Linked DNA regions of Homo sapiens. The protein of the gene in region 3 purifies or fractionates together with the protein of the main gene of each other region. This does not show direct contact. Each region holds a gene or a part of one and is shown on either strand. Other genes may lie near its edges. The genes, in order: RPL22, EIF3A, ZCCHC17, NOS1AP, POF1B and CSNK2A2.

Region 1 (2,538 bases), about 25 Mb from region 3:
CAGTGTACTATTAGGGATTTTTTTTTTTCCTTTTTTTTAGATAGGGTCTTACTCTGTCACCAAGGCTGGAGAGCAGTGGGGTGATCATAGCTCACTCTAGCCTCCATCTCCTGGCTCAAACAGTCCTACCTCAGCCTCCCAAATAGCTGGGACTACACGAGTGCCCCACCATGTCCGGCTATGTCAGGGAACATTTCAACCACCTGAAATTTTGAATTAACCTCATCTGAATACAATATGGTGGAAATAATTGACAAAAGTATACTTTTTAGATGGAATGACCAAATTGATTTATCTTTGCTTAGCAAAAAGTGGACAGTTGAATTGAGATCTTCACACTTTGTGGCGATTGCTTTGTTGGTGTGGAGATTGCTTTGTTGGTGTGGAGATTGCTTTGTTGGTGTGGAGATTGCTTTGTTGGTGTGGAGCACTGTCACAGTGCTCCTTTTTTGGAGATGGTGAGTCTGTTGGTTCATGACATTTGGGTCCTGTGAATATGCCAGGGATCCATGCTGAGCGCGGTGGCTCACGCCTGTAATCCCAGCACTTTGGGAGGCCCAGACGGGTGGATGACCTGAGGTCGGGAGTTCCAGACCAGCCTGACCAACATGGAGAAACCCCGTCTCTTACTAAAAATACAAAATTAGCTGGGCGTGGTGGCACATGCCTGTAATCCCAGCTACTCGGGAGGCTGAGGCAGGAGAATTGCTTGAACCCGGGAGACGGAGGTTGAGGTGAGCCGGAGATCGTGCCATTCCAGCCTGGGCAACAAGAGCGAAACTCCGTCTCAAAAAAAAAAAAAATGCCAGGGATCTCTCTGAGCATCTCATGTAATCCTTGCTATGGTCTGAAGAGATGGTTAGTAGCAGGGATCCCCTTTCACTGTGGGAGAAACAGCTTGGGTAGATGAATTGGCTCTGCTGTGGGTTTGTGTGTTGTGAAATTCCCTCTTTATGGCTTGGGAAGATTCGGAATAGCCTCAGGGCCACGGAAGCAAGCCGGTGAGAGAGCTGCCAAGACTGTGGTGCACTTCATCTTTTTTTTTTTTAATTAAAAAAAAAAATGTTGTGTAGAGACAGGGTCTTGCTATGTTGCCTAGGCTGGTCTCGAACTCCTAGATTCAAGGGATCCTCTCACCTTGGCCTCACAAAGTGTTGGGATTACAGGCGTGAGCCACTGTGCCCAGCCCTTAGGTCATCTTTATGTAGTTAGGGTGTTGGGCACAAAAGCCAGTTTTTGCCTTTCCATAAAGAATGAGTGTTTTGGCTGGTCGCAGTGGCTCACAGCTATAATCCCAGCACTTCGGGAGGCTGAGGTGGGCAGACACTTGAGGCCAGGAGTTCGAGACCAGACTGGCCAATATGGCAAAACCCCCATCTCTACTGAAATTACAAAAATTAGCTGGACATGGTGTTATACACCTGTAATCCCAGCTACATGGGAGACTGAGGCATGAGAATTGCTTGAATCCTGGAGGCAGAGGTTGCAGTGAGCCTGGGCCACAGAAGGAGATTCTGTCTAAAAAAATAAATAAAAGAGTTTTTAAATGATCCCTGTTGTGGTGAGTGTTTAGCTCTCACCTGGCTAAAGCAGCAATTGGGCAGGCTGACTGAAAGGCTTTGTGCTCTCTGGGCGTGAGCGCAGTGGCAGGGTGGCATTCTGTCCCTGTGTGTTGGGTGGTGAGCAGGAGCGAGTGTGTGCACACCCCTAAGAAGCAGTCCTCATCATCCAGACAACCTCAAAAGGGGGTTTGACTCCGTGAGGTGATGTGTGCGCAGCGCTTACAGCTCTTTGGAAACCCACTATTTTCTGCATAAAAGGTATTGAGGTTGCGTACTTAACTGTAAATTTCTATCATGTTATCTTTCTCCAGTGGTCACTAAAAACCATGTTATAGGTGTTTGCTGCATTTTCATGGACAACTGGTACATCTACTTATCTACTTATCTGCTCTTGTTTTTTTTTTTTGTTTTTTTTTTTTTGAGATGGAGTCTTGCTCTGTCGCCCAGGCTGGAGTGCAATGGCGCCATCTCGGCTCACTGCAGCCTCTGCCTCCCGGGTTCAAGCGATTCTCTTACCTCAGCCTCCTGACTAGCTGGGACTACAGGCGCCCAGCACGACGTCTGGCTAATTTTTTGTATTTTTAGTAGAGATAGGGTTGCATCGTGTTAGCCAGGATGGTCTCCGTTTCCTGACCTCATGATCCGCCTGCCTCAGCCCTCCAAAATGCTGGGATTACAGGTGTGAGCCAGTGCCCCTGGCCTAGTTTTTTTTCTTTTTTCTTTTTTTGGAGGCAGTCTTGCTCTGTCACCCAGGCTGGAATACAGTGGTACAATCTTAGCTCACTACACCCTCCGCCTCCTGGATTCAAGGGATCCTCATGCCTCAGCCTCCCGAGTAGCTGGGATTACAGGCGTGCACCACCACGCCCAGCTAATTTTTTTATTTTTAGTAGAGATGGGGTTTCACCATGTTGTTCAGGCTGGTCTCGAACTCCTGACCTCAAGTGATCTGCCTGCCTTGGCCTCCCAAAGCGCT
Region 2 (3,500 bases), on a different chromosome or scaffold from region 3:
GCTTTTTTATTTTATATATTTTTAATTGTTCTTGTTGCTGTGTAGGGAGTGGAGACGTGGAGAAGGGCGAGATGAGGACAGGTCTCATAGAAGAGATGAAGAGCGGCCCCGGCGTCTGGGGGATGATGAAGATAGAGAGCCCTCTCTTAGACCAGACGATGATCGGGTTCCCCGGCGTGGCATGGATGATGACAGAGGCCCTAGACGTGGTCCTGAGGAAGATAGGTTCTCTCGTCGTGGGGCAGACGATGACCGGCCTTCCTGGCGTAACACAGATGATGACAGGCCTCCCAGACGAATTGCCGATGAAGACAGGGGAAACTGGCGTCATGCGGATGATGACAGACCACCTAGACGAGGACTGGATGAGGACAGAGGAAGCTGGCGAACAGCTGATGAGGACAGAGGACCAAGACGTGGGATGGATGATGACCGGGGGCCGAGGCGAGGAGGCGCTGATGATGAGCGATCATCCTGGCGTAATGCTGATGATGACCGGGGTCCCAGGCGAGGGTTGGATGATGATCGGGGTCCCAGGCGAGGCATGGATGATGACCGGGGTCCCAGGCGAGGCATGGATGATGACCGGGGTCCCAGGCGAGGCATGGATGATGACCGGGGTCCCAGGCGAGGGTTGGATGATGATCGAGGACCTTGGAGGAACGCCGATGATGACAGAATTCCCAGGCGTGGTGCAGAGGATGACAGGGGCCCTTGGAGAAACATGGATGATGATCGCCTTTCAAGACGTGCTGATGATGATCGGTTTCCCAGACGGGGTGATGACTCAAGACCTGGTCCTTGGAGACCATTAGTCAAGCCAGGTAAAATTCTATTTCCTAGAATATGCTTAAGTGTTCACCTGTAAAAGTGAAATTCTGATGGATAAATATCAGGGCTGTATTGTTATTTTCCAGATAAACTGGTCTTTCATCTTTCCTTCAGTATCATTTGCAGTGACTTCGCTGTCAAAAGTTTGCCTTCAGAATACCACCATCCAAAACATAAATAACCCAACCCCTCTCTTCTTTAGTGATGTGCTCTTTGTTTTCCTTCTGCTTCGATGACTGCTTCTTTGAAGGCTCTTCCTGTACTCATGCTTTCAGTATTGGTGTATTTTTCAGGTTTTACTGGGAACCAGCCTCCTTTTAAAAATAAATAATTGAAACCAAAATGTACTTTATATATTTATTTTTGCCAACTGAGAGATTATGCAAGGAGGAACTCATTTTACTTTACTTTTTTTGAGACAGGGTCTTGCTCTGTTGCACAGGCTGGAATGCAGTGGTGCAGTCATGGCTCACTGCAACCTTGACCTCCCGGACCCTAGGGAGCCTCCCACTTCAGCCTTCTGAGTAGCTAGGACTACAGGCGCATGCCACCACACCCTGCTAATATTTTATTTTTTGGAGAGACGGGGTTTCGCTATGTTGCCCAGGCTGGTCTCAAACTCCTGGGCCCAAGTTATCCTTCTGCCTCTCCCTCCCAAAGTGAAGTGCTGGGATAACGGGTGTGAGGCGCTGCGCCCAGCCTCATTTTTTTTCTTAGTCCTGGGCCTGCTTATTGTTTCACACTTTATTATTCGTGAGCAGTTGTATACATGTTTGTGACATGCGTCTATTACCATTTTTTTTCTTTTTGAGGTGGAGTCTTGCTCTGTCTCCCAGGCTGGAGTGCAGTGGTATGATCTCAGCTCACTGCAACCTCTGCCTCCCAGGTTCAAGCAATTCTCCTGCCTCAGCTTCCCAAGTAGCTGGGACTACAGGCACATGCCACCATGCATGGCTAATTTTTTTTTTTTTTTTTTTTTTTGGAGACGGAGTCTCGCTCTGTCATCTGGCTGGAGTGCAGTGGCGCGATCTCCCCTCACTGCAAGTTCTGCCTCCCAGGTTCATGCCCTTCTCCTGCCTCAGCCTCCTGAGTAGCTGGGACAACAGGTGCCTACCACTATGCCTGGCTAATTTTTTGTATTTTTAGTAGAGATGGGGTTTCACCATGGTAGCCAGGATGGTCTCGATCTCCTGACCTCTTGATCCGCCTGCCTCAGCCTCCCAAAGTGCTGGGATTACAGGCATGAGCCACCACGCCCGGCCATTTTTTTGTATTTTTAATAGAGATGGGGTTTCACCATGTTGGCCAGGCTGCTCTCGAACTCCTGACCTCAAGTGATCCACCCACCTCGGCCTCCCAAAGTGCTAGGATTACAGGCGTGAGCCACTGCCCCGGCCAGTTTTCTCTAGGTAATTTCTGCGTACTGCACACAGGTGACAGCTGCTTACTGCATATAGCACATCTCCACTTGGTAGTCTTACTGAATGTCTAACACAGCCTATCCAAAACTGGACTCATTACCATCACATACACGTGCACTTGTTCACGCCCACCCATCCCTCTGATTCTCTTCAGGGGCATCACTGTCCATCTAACTGTCTGAGCTAGGATTCTGGGAGTTGTTTTGTCTCTGTTTCATCCTTTATGTTAAATCTTTAGTTCAGTTCTGCCTTTTTGATGTTCCTGAAATCCACCCTCCTCTCCATTCCCATTGCTTGTACTTGGTCCTGGGTCAGCATCATTTTCCTCACCCGCTAACTGGTTTTTGCTGCCTCTCTTACTCCCAGTTTTAATTTTGGGTGTCAGGGAAATAACCAGAGCAGTTGTTGTAAGTGCAGATCTAAGTGAGCTGCTTCCTTGCTTTCCCCAGTTGTTTCTGTTGCCTACTTCGTCTCTTCTAGTCTCACTTCATTCTGCTGTTCGGCTGTTACCTTGTGTAAGACATTTAATTTTTCTTTTCCTCATGTTAAATGGGGTAACAGTATAGCAGATTCTTACTAATTTGCTAATTATATTTTATACAGTTGCCATGAATACTGAACTCATGTTCCTAGGGTAAATACAAGGTTAGGTTCTTGTAAGCTTCTAGTCATGATATTTTTGTCAACCAATCAATACATAAAATGTCTTTTATGTGTTTGTGTTTAAAGACTCCCTATTTCTGATATGTTGTTGATTCATTACCATTGAATTCATGGTCAACAGCATTATAACTCATTCATGAACAAAGCTTATCTAATACATGTATTTTCTCCTTAAGGCATATCATAGCCACCTTGTGCTTGGGGCCACTAAACAGCATTTGTTTTTTCTCTTTTTGAGGTGGGGCCTCACTGTCTCCCAGGCTGGAGTGCAGTGGCGTGATCTCAGATCACCGCAACCTCTGCCTCCTGGGCTCAAGAGATCCTACCACATCAGCCTCCTGAGTAGTAGACTATAGGTGCACACCACCAAGCCCAGCTAATTTTTGTATTTTTTTGTAGAGATGTGGTTTTGCCATGTTGCCCAGGCTGGTCTTGAACTCCTGGGCTCCAGGGATCCACCCTCCTCAGCCTCCCAAATTCCTGAGATTACAGGCATGAGCCACCACGCCTGGCCACTAGACAGCATTTTAGCACTACACTTGGAGGCCATTTTAAACAGTGAGGTCACCAGCAAATTTACATCTC
Region 3 (3,500 bases):
TCATTTAATGTGTCACCTTACTGACCTGGTCAAGATTTTTGTTGTTATCATTTTCCAGCTTGTTTGGATTTAGATTTTTTTGTTACTTGAGTACTAATTGACTAGAACCCTAAGAATTTAAAGGAATTTTAGTTTATCTTTAAGCTGTGCTGGAATTGTGAGCAAAGTAAGCTAACTAAAACTACTAGGATATGAACAGAGACAGAATAATGACTCCAGAGCCTGCACTGTTTGCTTTGTTTTTTGTTTTGAGGCAGGGTCTCACTCTGTTGTCCAGGCCGGAGTGCAATGGTCCAAACATGGCTCCCTGCAGCCTTGACCTCCTGGGCTCAAGCTATCCTCCCGCCTCAGCCTCCCAAGTAGCTGGGACAGAAACACACCAACGAGCTTGGCTAATTTTTTTTTTTTTTGAGGGGGGGTAGAGACTGGATTTCATTATGTTGCCCAGTCTGGTCTTGAACTCCTGGCTCAAGCAATCCTCCTACCTCAGCCTCCCAAAGTGCTGAGATTACAGGCATGAGCCATGGCACCCGGCCAAGAGCCTGCATTCTTAAGCACTATACCTCAAAAAGAATTCACAATCGAATATGGTTTGGCTTTGTGTCCTCACCCAAATTTCATCTTGAACTGTAATCCCCACATGTTGGGGGAGGGACCTAGTGGGAGGTGACTGGATCATGGCAGTTTCCCACAGTCTGTTCTCATGATAGTGACAGAGTTTTCACGAGATCTGATGGTTTAAATGTGGCAGTTTCTCTTGCTCTCTCTCTCTCTCCTCTGACACCACTTAAGACGTGCCTTGCTTCCCCTTCACCTTCTGCCATGAGTTATAAGTTTCCTGAGGACTCCCCAGCAATTCAGAACTGTGAGTCAATTAAACCTTTCTCCTTTATAATTACCCAGTCTCAGGGAGTTCTTTAGAGCAGTGTGAAAATGGGCTAATACACGGTCTAAATCTAAATTTTGTAGAATATAGCTCTAACACTAACTAGGTCCCAACATTAGAGGAATCAATGTGGATATCATTCATGGAAGAGCTAGGATGAGCAACGTCTGGATCCATTCATTCAAACATGAAACCAAGGACCATTTCTCATTTGATTTTGTGTTCCTGGGGTCTGGTATACTACAAGTACTCAGTTTTTTTTAAATGAGTGAACTGAGCCTCACTATATGCCAAGCACAGGTAGAGAAAGAGGGGGGAACACATTCTGGTCTAAAGGATATAGAAGAAGAAGGAGCTAGGTCCCATTTAATATGTTGGACAGATCAACAGATGGAACACTTCTTTTTTCTTTTTTTTTAAGATGGAGTCTCGCTCTGTTGCCCAGGCTGGAGGGCAGTGGTGCGATCTCGACTCACTGCAACCTCCACTTCCCGGGTTCAAGTGATTCTGTCACCTCTGCCTCCCAAGTAGCTGGGACTACAGGCATGCAACACCATGCCCAGCTAATTTGTGTACTTTTAGTAGAGACATGGTTTCACCATGTTGGCCAGGTTGGTCTCAAACTCCTGACCTCAAGTGATCTGCTCGCCTCGGCCTCCCAAAGTGTTAGGATTACAGGTGTGAACCACCGCACCCGGCCGGGACACTTTCAAATGTCAAACTGGTGGTCCAACTTTCCTCCCTCCCACCAAATTCTAGAGTGACCATGTAAGATAGATGCTTCTTGCTTTCAAATTCCAGTCGTGGACCTGTTGAGAAAATAGCCAAAAGCAGGAAAGAGGAATAGTAAAATGCCAGGAAAAACACAAAAGATGAACTCAGAAAATGTAAAAACTTAAAGGAATTATGGAAATAATTAAACCTATTACTCTTAGGCCACTGAAAATGAAGCCAAGTGATTTGACAAAGGCTGCTCACAGTTAGCAACATTGGTATAAGACCCCAGGATCAGCACTTATTCTACCACTCGACACTACACTTTCAGTCAATTATTCCTAAGATCCCTTCAAAGTCTTATAATAGCTAATATTTGAGTGCTTCATATCTGCCATGTATTAATCTAAGAGCTTTACTTCTCTTAACTAATTTTTCTTTTTAAAATTTTATCTTCATGACATTCAATAATTCTCTTCTTGACTATCCCATAAAACAGGCAATTATCATTGCCATTTTAAAAATGAGGACACAAGAGAAGCTAAGTAAACTCGCTCAAGATTGCAAAATATGAATGATGGGGATGGGATTCAAATCATTTTTAGGGACATTTTTTTCCTCCCTTTGTAGAGTGTGGAACTCTTGTAAGCATGCCTTTGTCTTGCACATCATCATATCCTTCCTCCCCAAATCTCCAGTGCCTAGCACAGTGTAACACACATGGAAATTGTCTACTAAAATAGTGAAGTATTTAATTTTACCCCATTTAAATTGTTAATTCATCAATTCAGTATGCTATTGATTGATGTTTATATATAAGGTACTTTATAAACCTGCTTTCAATCCCTAAAACTCCTCTACAAAGCAAGTAATCCTATTTTACAGGAATGAAATAACTTGTCCAAAACAACACAGCAAGAAAGAGACAAATCTTAGGCCATTCCAAGGGCCACACACACTTGCCACTAAACCACCCTTTTTTTTCTTTTTTTTTTTTTGAGACAGAGTTTTGTTCTTGTCACCCAGGCTAGAGTGCAATGGCGCGATCTTAGCTCACTGCAACCTCCTCCCAGGTTCAAGCGATTCTCCTGCCTCAGCCTCCCGAGTAGCTGGGATTACAGGCACACACCACCATGCCCAGCTGATTTTTATATTTTTAGTAGAGACAGGGTTTCACCATATTGGTCAGGATGGTCTCGAACTCCTGACCTCAGGTGATCCACCTGCCTCGGCCTCCCAAAGTGCTGGGATTATAGGAGTGAGCCACAGCACCCGGCCTAAACCACCCTTTTCAACACAGTCCCTGTTCTCAAAGACCTCCTAATCTGATAGGGATATCAGATATCATCATTCCAACAACACTCTAAACTCCCTTTAACTCTGTCTTTATATTTAACTATCTGGCAGTATGTCTAACCTAGCCCGGGACAGTTGCAGACAACAGAACCCACTTAAGCAGAAAGGGATGTATTGCAATAACAGACTTTGGCGGAACTTCCAGGAACAACACCTAACCCACAAAATAACACCAATTACACTGCAATGTGATAAGTGCTAAAGCAGAAGCTTGGGGGCCAGGCATGGTGGCTTATGCCTATAATCGTAGCACTTTGGGAGACCAAGGCAGCAAGATCACTTGAGGCCAGGAGTTTGAGACCAGCCTGGACAACATGGCAAGACCTTATCTCTATAAAAAATACAACAATTAGCCAGGCATGGTGGCACATACCTGTTATCCCACCTACTGGAGAGGCTGAGGTGGGAGGATCACTGGAGCCTGGGAGGTCGAGGCTACAGTGAGCCATAATCATGCCACTGCAATCGGCCTGGGCAACAGAGTAAGACTGTCTCAAAACAAACAAACAAAAGTAGTAGCTAGGAAGAGAAAGAGGGTCTGGGG
Region 4 (3,500 bases), about 130 Mb from region 3:
AAGAGAGGGATCTCCTACATCGCTTCTTATAAGGGCATGAATCCCATCATGAGGACTGCATTCTCATGATCTAATTACCTCCCAAAAGCTCATCTCCAAGTGCTATTACATTGGGAGCTAAGGCTTCGACATATGAACACCAACATTCAGTCCATAACATACCCAACAGCCTAATAGGTATCCCTACTTGACTGTTACACAGACTCTTACAATGTCAACAGGTTTAAAACTGAACTCATCTTCTTACCTGCAATCCTGCTTCTCCTGGATTTTTCCTATAGGATGCCATTCTCCATTCAGTCACCTGAATCAGATATTTTAAGACTCATCCTGCACATATCCCCACCCCCGCCCCCACCACAGACAAGCAAACCCTGTGCTTTCTGCCCCCTGACGATCCTTCGAATCCATCTCTTCTCCATGTTATTGCCATTGTCTTCACTCAAGCCCTCATATTTTCCACCTAGAGTATCACTTTCTCTCATTGCTGCTGGATCTATCCTCCATACTATATCTAGAGTGAAATTTTGAAGGATGAAAATGTTTTGGTATTACTTGCTTTCAGTCCCTCAAGATAAAATGCTGACTCGTCCTGGTCAGGTCCCTCCCTACGGGACCACTTGCATTGCCTGACATGCCGTGGACTTCCTGCCTCTGTGCCTCTCTGCCCCTGCCCCCGCGCCCGGCCAAACCTGACAAATTTTCTGATTCCACCTGGGCTTCTGGCGAGGCCCTGTCCAAACCCTCTGTGTCTGGGGCTTCTTAGTTCTTGTTATTAGGATCTCCAGGGATGGGAAGTAGATAAGCAGCCTTCTCCTGCAGCCTGTTCTCCTGTTTTGCTACCCTGTCACTACATTACTTACTTTGTCAGTATTTATGGAACACTTTCTCTGTGCCAGAGAAACATTTTTAGGAAACATGAATGAGACACAGCCTGGCCTCAAGTCTGTAAGGGAAGACTGATGGCCAGGCACATCCAATATCATGTGCTAAGTGCACAGAACACTGCAGTAGCCCAGCTTCTCCTGATCACTGATAGAAATTTCACCCTGCTTTTTCCTGTACAGGCATGGAGAACCAAACGCTTAGTTCCCAGCACCACCCACCTACCGACCCTCCATCTCTCAGGCTAAGCACCCAGCCATCAAGACGGTCACTTCCAGGTGCAGGCTGTGGTAGAAAGCAGGCTGCTCCCTGTGCTCCCCGCCTACTGGCTGACCAAGGGGCAGAAGAGCTTCCCCTTCCCTGCCCCCACTAGCTGCAGTCAGAACCATCTTTTCTGTTAAACGCCTTTGCAGCCCTCCACAGGACTGTCTCCTCAGCTCCTGGAGTAGCCAGGAAGAAAACCAAGCCCACTGTTTACTTTCTAAATGCCAGGCTTGTTTCCCTTGATGACTTGTGTAGGTTTGCATAGGAAAACTTCTTAGAACAATTTGTTCTACAAGGCAAGCACTCAAATGGCCAAGGCCTGGTTGCCTGGGCTAGCTTCAGCACTGGGGCATCAGCTCTGTGTCTCCTGCTTTACATCCACCTGTTCCATTTTATAATTGGTGCGTGGTCTCTGAAAACTCATGAGAAATCTTATTTAAAGACGGCAGTAATTAACCTAATTGCAAATATAGAAAATGAAAATATTTCCTATGAAATGCCCAGGAGTTGTCAGATGTTTTTACAGAATCCCAGAAATAGGATCAAGGAAGGAAGATAAGTAGGAAATAGCAGGGCTTTCATACATTGGTATTAAGCAGTATGCTGTGCCTGTGGTTAAATATTAAGTAAAGACATGGCCATTGTCTTCAGTGGAAAGGAAGAAATGTGGGAAGTAGAAAAATTAGATAAGGAAGCATGGAAAAGCAGCCACCCCATCTCTCTCCTCCTCCCCGTGCCACTTCCTGCAGGCGTCTTCCTGGCTTCTGCTGTTGGTGAGAGGATCAGGCTCTGAGGGCTGGGAGATTGATACTGTGTTAAAATGCAGCCTCACATCTCCCTGCCTTATTCCTCAGTCATGGAACCCTACCTGTCCATCTAACTGAGCTTCTAATTCTGTAGTTAAAGAAACATGGCCCAGAGAGTGAGGGGATTTGCTTCTTGTCCAGCAGTTTATTGGAGGCCCAACCTCCTCATTTCTGGACCCCCGGGCCAGGGCCCTTTCCCTTGACTGCTTCCGTTCCTGAGCTGCGATGACATGGAGATGATCAGCATCCCCTTCTTCCAGTGTACCTTGTCAATATATTCCTGTGAACCTGGCAAAACTTTTACATCCAGGCTTGAGGAAGTATTGCCTTTTTTTCTGGACTTTGAAAAGATACTAAGATGAGAACATCTTACTGGGCTGGAAATGCACTTTAACGTACTTGAGTGAAAAGATGTGTGAAAATGTTACAAAGCCAGTGGCATCCCTAGGCTCAACATGCCTGAAAGCTAAAGTATTAGGAAAGGAGGACTTTGTTCTCGGTGTTTTCATTCTCTTCCCTCCCTCCCCTGTTGTTCCTGCAGGCCGCCAGCTCACTGGAGCCGAGAGGGCCTCCACGGCCACTGCAGAGGAGACTGACATCGATGCGGTGGAGGTCCCACTTCCAGGGAATGATGTCCTGGAATTCAGCCGAGGTGTGACTGATCTAGATGCTGTAGGGAAGGAAGGAGGCTCTCACACAGGCTCCAAGGTAGGCAAGAGATGGCCCATCTGTGTGATCTGCACACGTGTGCCCTCAGGTCATCAGTCACTTCCTAGCCCCTGCCAGCTCAGCTTCCGAGTGAGGCACTCCATGGCACAGTGGCGGTGCCAGAGCGCACTTCATTGCCTTTCAGAAGGTCTGACTTCCAGAGGGTCTGAACACTAGATGCTGCTGCAGGCCAGGATGCTGTGGAGCTGATTCCTGACACACATCGCCCTCCCCAAATCCCACCAATATTTGGTCTCCTACTCCCTGGCACCCTCTTCCCTTAACAGCATCTCATCTTTGCACAGTATTTTGCAAGGCTCACTCTGGCACACACACACACAGACTCCCCTGTGACTTAGCTAGTAGAGCAAAGTCAGTTTGGGCCCGCTCTGCCTGCAGTAGCGGTGGTATACCGTTGGTAATTCCTGTGGATAGCACTTTGGAGTCTGGAAGTTGGCCCACTGGATGTCAGAAACTGAGAGACCACCTTAGTCTTCATCAGCTCTAACCTAACATCATATAGGTGAGATGACTGTGGCATCTGGGGGTTCCTAATGTGATCCAATTAAGAAACTAAGAACTTGAGATCAAATTCCAACCTGAAGCCAAAGCTAATTAAAAATGTTTTAAACCCAGAAGCAAAATTACTGACCAATAGCTCTACCCTTAGATTCCCAGGCGGTTTATATCAGGGCACCTCTCTCTCTTTAACATTCATATCTTATCTCACATGGAGGTTTGGAGGGCAGTTCAGTTCTAAACTAGCTGCCTGACGTTTCCTTTGGAACCAGTTTATCCTCTACAAGTGGAAACAGCCCTGTGTCACTGGGGGCCTTC
Region 5 (3,500 bases), on a different chromosome or scaffold from region 3:
ATATATGTACAGCCTTTTAAAATTGAGGTAAAATATCAAATGAACTAAAAACTTTGAGTATTTTTTTCTTTTGAGATTTTCTGTTTCCATTATTGATATACAGTGGGAATTAACAAATTTTGGAAAGATTCATACATGTGGCAATATAATTGATTATTTAAGCTATAATATAAATATAATTTTTGCCCCTCAAAAGGAAGAAGATTAACATTAGTGATATGCTAATTTTATTTATTTTCTTGCCTAGCTCGGTAGTTATTGAATGGGTTCCATTAAAATTTTCCAAAACAGTTTCCCTTTTTCTAAAGCAGGTAGCAAATATCATAGACAATTATGAAGGCAACTGGAAAATGGAGAAGAGGCATGTTTCAATAGAATTTGTCTTGCAATCTTGCATGTGGTACTTATTCCTGTGGATTTTATATATATATATATTATATATATTAGGATTTAGAAAGAAGAGATGTTTCTAGCTTCCTCACTAGACTGTAACATCCTCCAGCCTTAAATCCCACAGTTATAGTGAGGTTGCTGAAGAGTACTTTAAACATCATATACTCCAATATTTACTCTACCTTCTACAACATCCTCCAAAATGGCCAGGTGACATGGACCTTAGCATCTTTCTAAGTGGTCCAATCCATTGCTAAGGGGACTGATTATTGAAACCTTCTTATAAAGGACTGAGAGCTACTTCCCTAAAACTTTTACATATTGCTCTATTAACTTTTAAAGTAATGATCATCAAATAGGGGATATATAGTTGTCCCTCAATATCCATGAGAGATTGGTTCCAGGATCCCCTACAGATATCAAAATCTGTAGATGCTCAAGTCCCTTATCGGCATAATATTTGCATATAACCTATGCACATCTTACTGTATACTTTAAGTCATTTCTAGCTTACAATAACTAATTCAATGTAAATTCTAAGTACGTGTCATACCGTCTTGTTTAGGAGGTAATAACAGTAAAAAAAAAAAAAAGTCTGTACATGTTCAGTACAGAAATGATTTTTTTCCTGAATATTTTCAACCCATCATTGGTGGGGAACCCATGAATACCAAGGGCCAACTATATATTCCCTAGCACAGTTGCTCTCTACAGCAACAATTTTGTACCTTACGGGACATTTAGCAATGTCTAGAGACATTTTTGGTTTTCACAACCAGAGGGGTGGGTGTTATTGGCATCTAGTGGTTAGAGAACTAGGATGCTTCTGAACATACTACGATGTGCAGGACAGTCTCCCATAACAAAGAATTATCCAGCCCCTAATAAGTAGTGTTGAGGTTGAAAAACTCTGCTAACAGAATGCTCTTGGGTTTTTTTCCTAATTATATACTCCTACACTGGTGCAAGAGATTCTAATAGTAAGCCACTGGTAGGGATCATAGGAATGTGTGATATCCTTCTGGTGAAATGAACAGAGAAATGTTTGAGGATTCTAGTTCTCAAATCATACAGATCTGACTTAAAACATTGTGAAAATGACAGCCTTTGACTTCTTATGATAAAATTATCTACCTGTCAAACTACTGAGGTATAAAAGTAGGCAAAACTAAATCTATGGCTATTAAATGAAGAAATGGTTATCCTTGTGGGATGGATACTGATTAAAAGGAAGCATAAGGAGAGATTCAAGGTCTTAATAATGTTCTGTTTCTTTATCTGGGAGATGGTTACATATGCATGTTCGGTTTGGGAAAATTCATTTATTTGAATACTTATAATATGTCCATTTCTTTCTACATGTTTATTGTACTTCAGTAAAAGCCTTAAAATGCTTAAGTGTACCGTGGTGAGCAATAGACAAATATACAAATATCAATCCAGTATTCTGCAGAACCTTTTGAAAAATATTTAAAAATTATGCTTCAGATGTATAGTTAATAAAATTAAACATCTAAACATCTGTTAAATAACTTCTAGAAACATCTTTTGGTTGAACAAGCTCAAATATTTGAGTCAACAAAAAAATTCAAAAAGTTTCTTTAGAGCTGAAGCCCTTCTTTAACTACAATCCAGCCATCAATCTTTTAAGTATGGTTGTTATCATCAATGAAAACAACCAATGTTTAGTAATCCCAAAGTAAAAATAACTGCATTTAAACTCTGAAATGTTGTTTTTGTTAGGTCATTAGTTAGCTGAAAATTACTTACTACTAATTATTAACCCATAGAATTTAAAATTGGCCACTCAAAGATAATTTGATGCCCAAAGTTAAGACTGAGAAGCAATTGCTGCCACTAACCCTAACCACATGTATCCCAGAGGTGGCAATATGAAGACCTGCCAAATAAAGTTTCTACAGAATAGTAGCCACTACTTCTCTCTCCATTAAAAATGTGCAGCAGTAAAAATCAAAATTGATATTTGAAGAATCTATAGATACTGATAGCAAGGTCAGAATATATTTAAATGCATTCACAGATGAAAATCCATATTTATTAAGAGACAATTGGACATATTTAAACTCTAAATATTACTAAGAAGGAAATCTACTTAATTGTCCTTCACTCTTGCTTAAAGTCATTTGAAACATACCATGAGTAAAGTAAGAAAGACAAATCATTGTTTCATTGAATATATATATATAAAAGAGTGCCACAAAAGTGCAATACATGTCCTTTGGTTTTATACATACCAATTTAAATAATTTTCCATAACTTTGCATATAGTAACAATGACTTTAATTATGAACCAGTTGTAAGATAACCTTTTTTTTTCTTTTCTAGCCATGAATGGATCCACTTTAAAGTATTACAACTCAAAGCCGTTTTTTTTTTGTGTGTGTGTCTCTGCATTAGTACTTTGTTATTTTTCCATCACTAAAGGCCAATCAGAATTTGGAACCATGCTGCTACCCAAGAAATCTAATGGAATGAATTAGTTCTGTAGATGACAATTTCTTCACCCATTTATGAGACCTAAATCTTTTCCATAACACTCATGTATTCAGTATAACAACATACTAACTGAAAGAGGGACCTGATTGTTTAAAGTTTGATTGCAGACACTGTAGAACATAACTCATTATGTTTCAGATAAGGTAACTCCTAGATATCAAACTAATTTGTTGGGGTAGAGATTTTACAAGTCATGCCATTAGAAGATTTTCTCTGATATTATATGTGCAGTTCAGTTACAAGATGAAATCATGTTTTTTTAACAAAAGAGATAAAATACAATTGAAGCAAAAAATAACAGCTAGTATATAATATATACAGTCTGTATTTGCTTTTCACAGTAGGCCTGATGACTAAAAGATATGCTTTATTACACGCTATTTTCACCTCTTGAAAGTCAAAGGTGATGATTAATTTCATTTAGCAGGGAAGTGGAATAATATCTTTTGAAATAACTAAGTCCACTAAATTATACAGTATGCTATTCTGGTTCTAAGTACATATTAGTCCCTTGGCAAATCTGTTCTTTCAAAGCATACCTTCCCCAAATGAGCCTACCTACTTCTTAAAAAACATATAACACAATGTGG
Region 6 (3,500 bases), on a different chromosome or scaffold from region 3:
CTTCAAATCTAAGAAATAAGCAAAACGTAAATTGAAATTAGGAATATCCATATTCCACTGCTGTATATTCAGAAGAATGAATTGCTGACTCTAAAGCAATTCCAGAAAAATGTCTGAACTTTTGTGCTATGGCAGCATTTTTAGAATAAGTGTATGATTTTCTGTGGTGCTTTTTTTTTTTTAAAGGAACAGCATTCAGGTGTGTGTATAAATACCAGCATGTTCATTTAGGAGAGCATCGCATTGCTGCTTCATCATCCAAAGAGCTTTATAGGCTCTAGCTTTCCCCCTACTTTAAAGATTCTTGGCGTATGTTAGGAAACCCAGTATGTAAGCTGCTGCAGGTTATCTTTACAAATGGGAGACCTAGGCACAAAGAAACTTACCTAATGTCATTATGTTGAATGACCATTAGCCAGAACTCCTGTTTCCTATTTCTTCATATCTCTTACTGTTCATTTTAGCACTGGATTGTAGGATCTGAACGTTGAGCACAGAAACAGGTACCAGTGTCCTGGAATCAGACTTGGGAGGCCCCTAGTTAATGAAATGTTTCTTGTTTCTTCTTGATGTTGTTTGTTTTCACAGTGCAGCCTAAACCACTAGTGAAAATTAGACTCACTTCTTTATGTTTTTTAAAGCCCGGTGGCATTTCTATCCAGATTTTGTTCCTGTCTGAAGGATGGGGTAATATATCACTAATGGCATTATTGTGGTTTTGTTGTTTTGTGAATTAAAAGTATTACTTTTTAAAAAGAACAGGGTAACAAGGTCTTTAGCCAAAGTTGTGTTTCTTTATTCAAATAAGTTGAAGTTATGACTAATAGCTACTATTGTGGTGCTTGGTCATAGGAAATTAGGTCCTTAACAGACTACCAGCTCCTCATAACTTGGAAGAATCTAGAACAGCCTTCCTTTTTGTAAAAGCCTGCTGTATTTTAGCTGCAGGATTGTATTATGCACATAGTGACCAAGATAGAGGGTGGCTTTCTTGAGGACAAGTGGTCTTACTTTTGTAGTCAGTAACGTTTCGTATCAGTTCTTTGCAATATATGTGAGAATGGGTGGATGATGAGTGACTACAGAGGAATTTTATATCATTTAATTTGCATTAGTGGATTTCCAGGTATTGATCAAAAATGAGCTGCTAAAAAGTTTTAGGAATTTAGAAACTGGTGAGCAAAATTTTACTGTCTATCCCCAAGTGGTATTCTGTGGCTAAAATCTTAAAACTTTCCAATCAATAGAGAGGTTGTATCTTTTTTTGACAAATTGTTTTGAGGAGAAAAGAGAAAAAGGAGGAGGAAAATGGTAAGCGTTTATATGGCAGGGCAGAAAGCTACATTAGTGCCAAAAGTTTCATCTTTTGATTTTGAAAAATCAGTTCTTCATTTCCTTTGTAGTACCTCTTAGAAAAGTGTACACAGAAGTAAAAGTGGCCACCTTTGACAACTTTTAGCATTTTATGAATACTGCCTGTGTGTGTAGATTTCAGTACTTCTTGGGGTCCTTGGGATCTTTCAAATTAAACTGCTATTTCTTGAATAAAAGTTAAGAGCAACACTATTTTTAAAAAACAGCATTTTGAACCAGTGCAAAATGACTTGGAAATTCCCATATAAGGCTTCCTCTTAGAGGTCTTATTTTATAAACAGATTGACTATCCATTTTCCCCTAGATATTAATTATTTAGCTTTAAACAAAGGGTGGTGGTATTAAAATTTTGCTCTTTAAGCATGTTTAGCATACTTGCAGATATTTTTTAAGTTCTGTGTTGTCAGTAGGTAGTGTTAAAAGGATGGGCATTGGTTATACATCTTTGTTAGTAGCTTCATCGTGAGCTGGTGATCTTTATATTATATCAGAATGGTGCTTTCCTCTTTATTTCCTCTTTATTTCTCCTGTGGTAGGTTTTTTACCCTCCTAAATTTAGGCATGTGTATGAAGACATCTTCCTGAAACAACACATTAGTGGTATTTATCTAAGTTTTTGGTACATTCTGATTTTCACTAATGTCTCATGGTATAAAAGTAGTGCAAACAGTATCACTAAAGTATTGCTAACATTAAAAATAATGTTAAAAATTATATGTGAACTAGGCCGTTTCCAGCATTGTACTGGGGAGTCACAGATTAAGAGTGTAGTTAACCTGTGTCAAACAGAATCGCAGAATGCGGGCACTTAGAAACCTAGAAACCATTAGAACCCAGGCCCTTTTTACAAATCAACCAAGACCCAGAGAAAGGATGTATATGCTCAGCGTCATGTAGTCAGGGGGTGGAAGCACTCGGTGTAGGACCTTGTGTACCTGTCATGAAGTCTTGGTAGATGCGAGGAGCATAATTAGGACATTAGCTGGATGTTTGACTTTGTGATGTCCTGATCTGTACTGGAAGAATTGAGGAACACTCACCAGGAGTCAAATGAAGTTAATTCGTTTCTAATGATTTTTGGAGTTATTTTTCTCAAAGGAAGTGTTTGACTTTGGTAAGTTGCTAGTTGAAGTGTGGAATCCAAGAGTCCTCGAGGGCTATAGGGACCCAGGCAGGCGTTCTCTATGATTAGTATCCACAGCAGCATGTTTAATGCTTCAATGAAATGCTGCTTTATTCTCTTGAAGCCTCAGTAAATAGTGTTTTTATGGTTTTTTTTTTTTTTAACCCATAGAGTTCCTCCAAGTCTCAGCATGATCACTTGGCAGATTTCGGGATTAATAGTTTAATAGTTTTATCCCTTTAATATATGAGTTTATTTGAGAGCAAACCACATGTGAAAAGAATATCTTGATATAGTGTGCCCATTTTCATGTATAAAGCAGGGCTCCAGATAGTTTCTAGAGTTTAATTTCAGGATCTACCATCTCATCATCAGGGTGGTGTAGTGTAGGAAGTGCTGTAAATGAGAGGGCAGAAGGCTTGAGTTCCAGAACTAGTTTCTTCATTGATACCCACTTGACTGTTTTCTCATCTATGAAATAAGCATACATTTCCTGCTTAAGTCACAGGATTGTTAGGAAAGTCAGATAAACTATAGATAGATGGGTAGAGAGATTGATTGTCATGTTTTAGTAATCTACAAAATGCTTTTCTTTCCTGAGAGAGTATGGCCTAGGAAGTGGTCTGCCTGGTTTCAGGTGTTAGCTCCAACTGTAGACGCTCTGTGACGTCAAACAGTTACTTAAGTTCTCTGTGCCTTGGTGTCCTTCCTCAAGTAAAACTGTTAATAGTGCTCATCTAAGACGGTTAAATGTGCTTAAAACAGTGCCTGGCCTGAGAGATCAATAAAGTATAGTAGTAATAACAATATTACATTTGGGTCATGCGAGTGATGTTAGAGGCAGAACCAATAGTAGAAAGGGTTGTAGTGTTCTCCTAATGAGATTCAAAGGGTCTGCTCTATGCCTTGCCTTTAAAAAAAAATTGTGTTAAAATACATGTAACATAGGCTAGGCGCGGTGCCTCACGCCTGTAATCCCAGCCCTTTGGTAGGCCGAGGTGGG

Evidence for each region.
Region 1: the proteins of ZCCHC17 (region 3) and RPL22 purify together in Homo sapiens (affinity purification with mass spectrometry; 2 studies listed by BioGRID and IntAct, with this or other methods). This does not show direct contact.
Region 2: the proteins of ZCCHC17 (region 3) and EIF3A purify together in Homo sapiens (affinity purification with mass spectrometry; one large-scale study listed by BioGRID and IntAct). This does not show direct contact.
Region 4: the proteins of ZCCHC17 (region 3) and NOS1AP purify together in Homo sapiens (affinity purification with mass spectrometry; 2 studies listed by BioGRID and IntAct, with this or other methods). This does not show direct contact.
Region 5: the proteins of ZCCHC17 (region 3) and POF1B purify together in Homo sapiens (affinity purification with mass spectrometry; one large-scale study listed by BioGRID and IntAct). This does not show direct contact.
Region 6: the proteins of ZCCHC17 (region 3) and CSNK2A2 purify together in Homo sapiens (affinity purification with mass spectrometry; 2 studies listed by BioGRID and IntAct, with this or other methods). This does not show direct contact.

What each region holds. Positions count from the first base shown.
Region 1 is NC_000001.11:6,187,058-6,189,595, reverse strand, and holds part of RPL22 (large ribosomal subunit protein eL22), read left to right. Parts: intron 1-2,538.
Region 2 is NC_000010.11:119,039,318-119,042,817, reverse strand, and holds part of EIF3A (eukaryotic translation initiation factor 3 subunit A), read left to right. Parts: intron 1-45; coding exon 46-824; intron 825-3,500. UniProt on the Homo sapiens protein: RNA-binding component of the eukaryotic translation initiation factor 3 (eIF-3) complex, which is required for several steps in the initiation of protein synthesis.
Region 3 is NC_000001.11:31,300,032-31,303,531, reverse strand, and holds part of ZCCHC17 (zinc finger CCHC domain-containing protein 17), read right to left. Parts: intron 1-3,500.
Region 4 is NC_000001.11:162,352,691-162,356,190, forward strand, and holds part of NOS1AP (carboxyl-terminal PDZ ligand of neuronal nitric oxide synthase protein), read left to right. Parts: intron 1-2,496; coding exon 2,497-2,663; intron 2,664-3,500. UniProt on the Homo sapiens protein: Adapter protein involved in neuronal nitric-oxide (NO) synthesis regulation via its association with nNOS/NOS1. The complex formed with NOS1 and synapsins is necessary for specific NO and synapsin functions at a presynaptic level.
Region 5 is NC_000023.11:85,278,666-85,282,165, reverse strand, and holds part of POF1B (protein POF1B), read left to right. Parts: exon of another isoform or gene 1-51; intron 52-2,739; coding exon 2,740-2,745; 3' UTR 2,746-3,500. UniProt on the Homo sapiens protein: Plays a key role in the organization of epithelial monolayers by regulating the actin cytoskeleton. May be involved in ovary development.
Region 6 is NC_000016.10:58,191,607-58,195,106, reverse strand, and holds part of CSNK2A2 (casein kinase II subunit alpha'), read left to right. Parts: intron 1-3,500.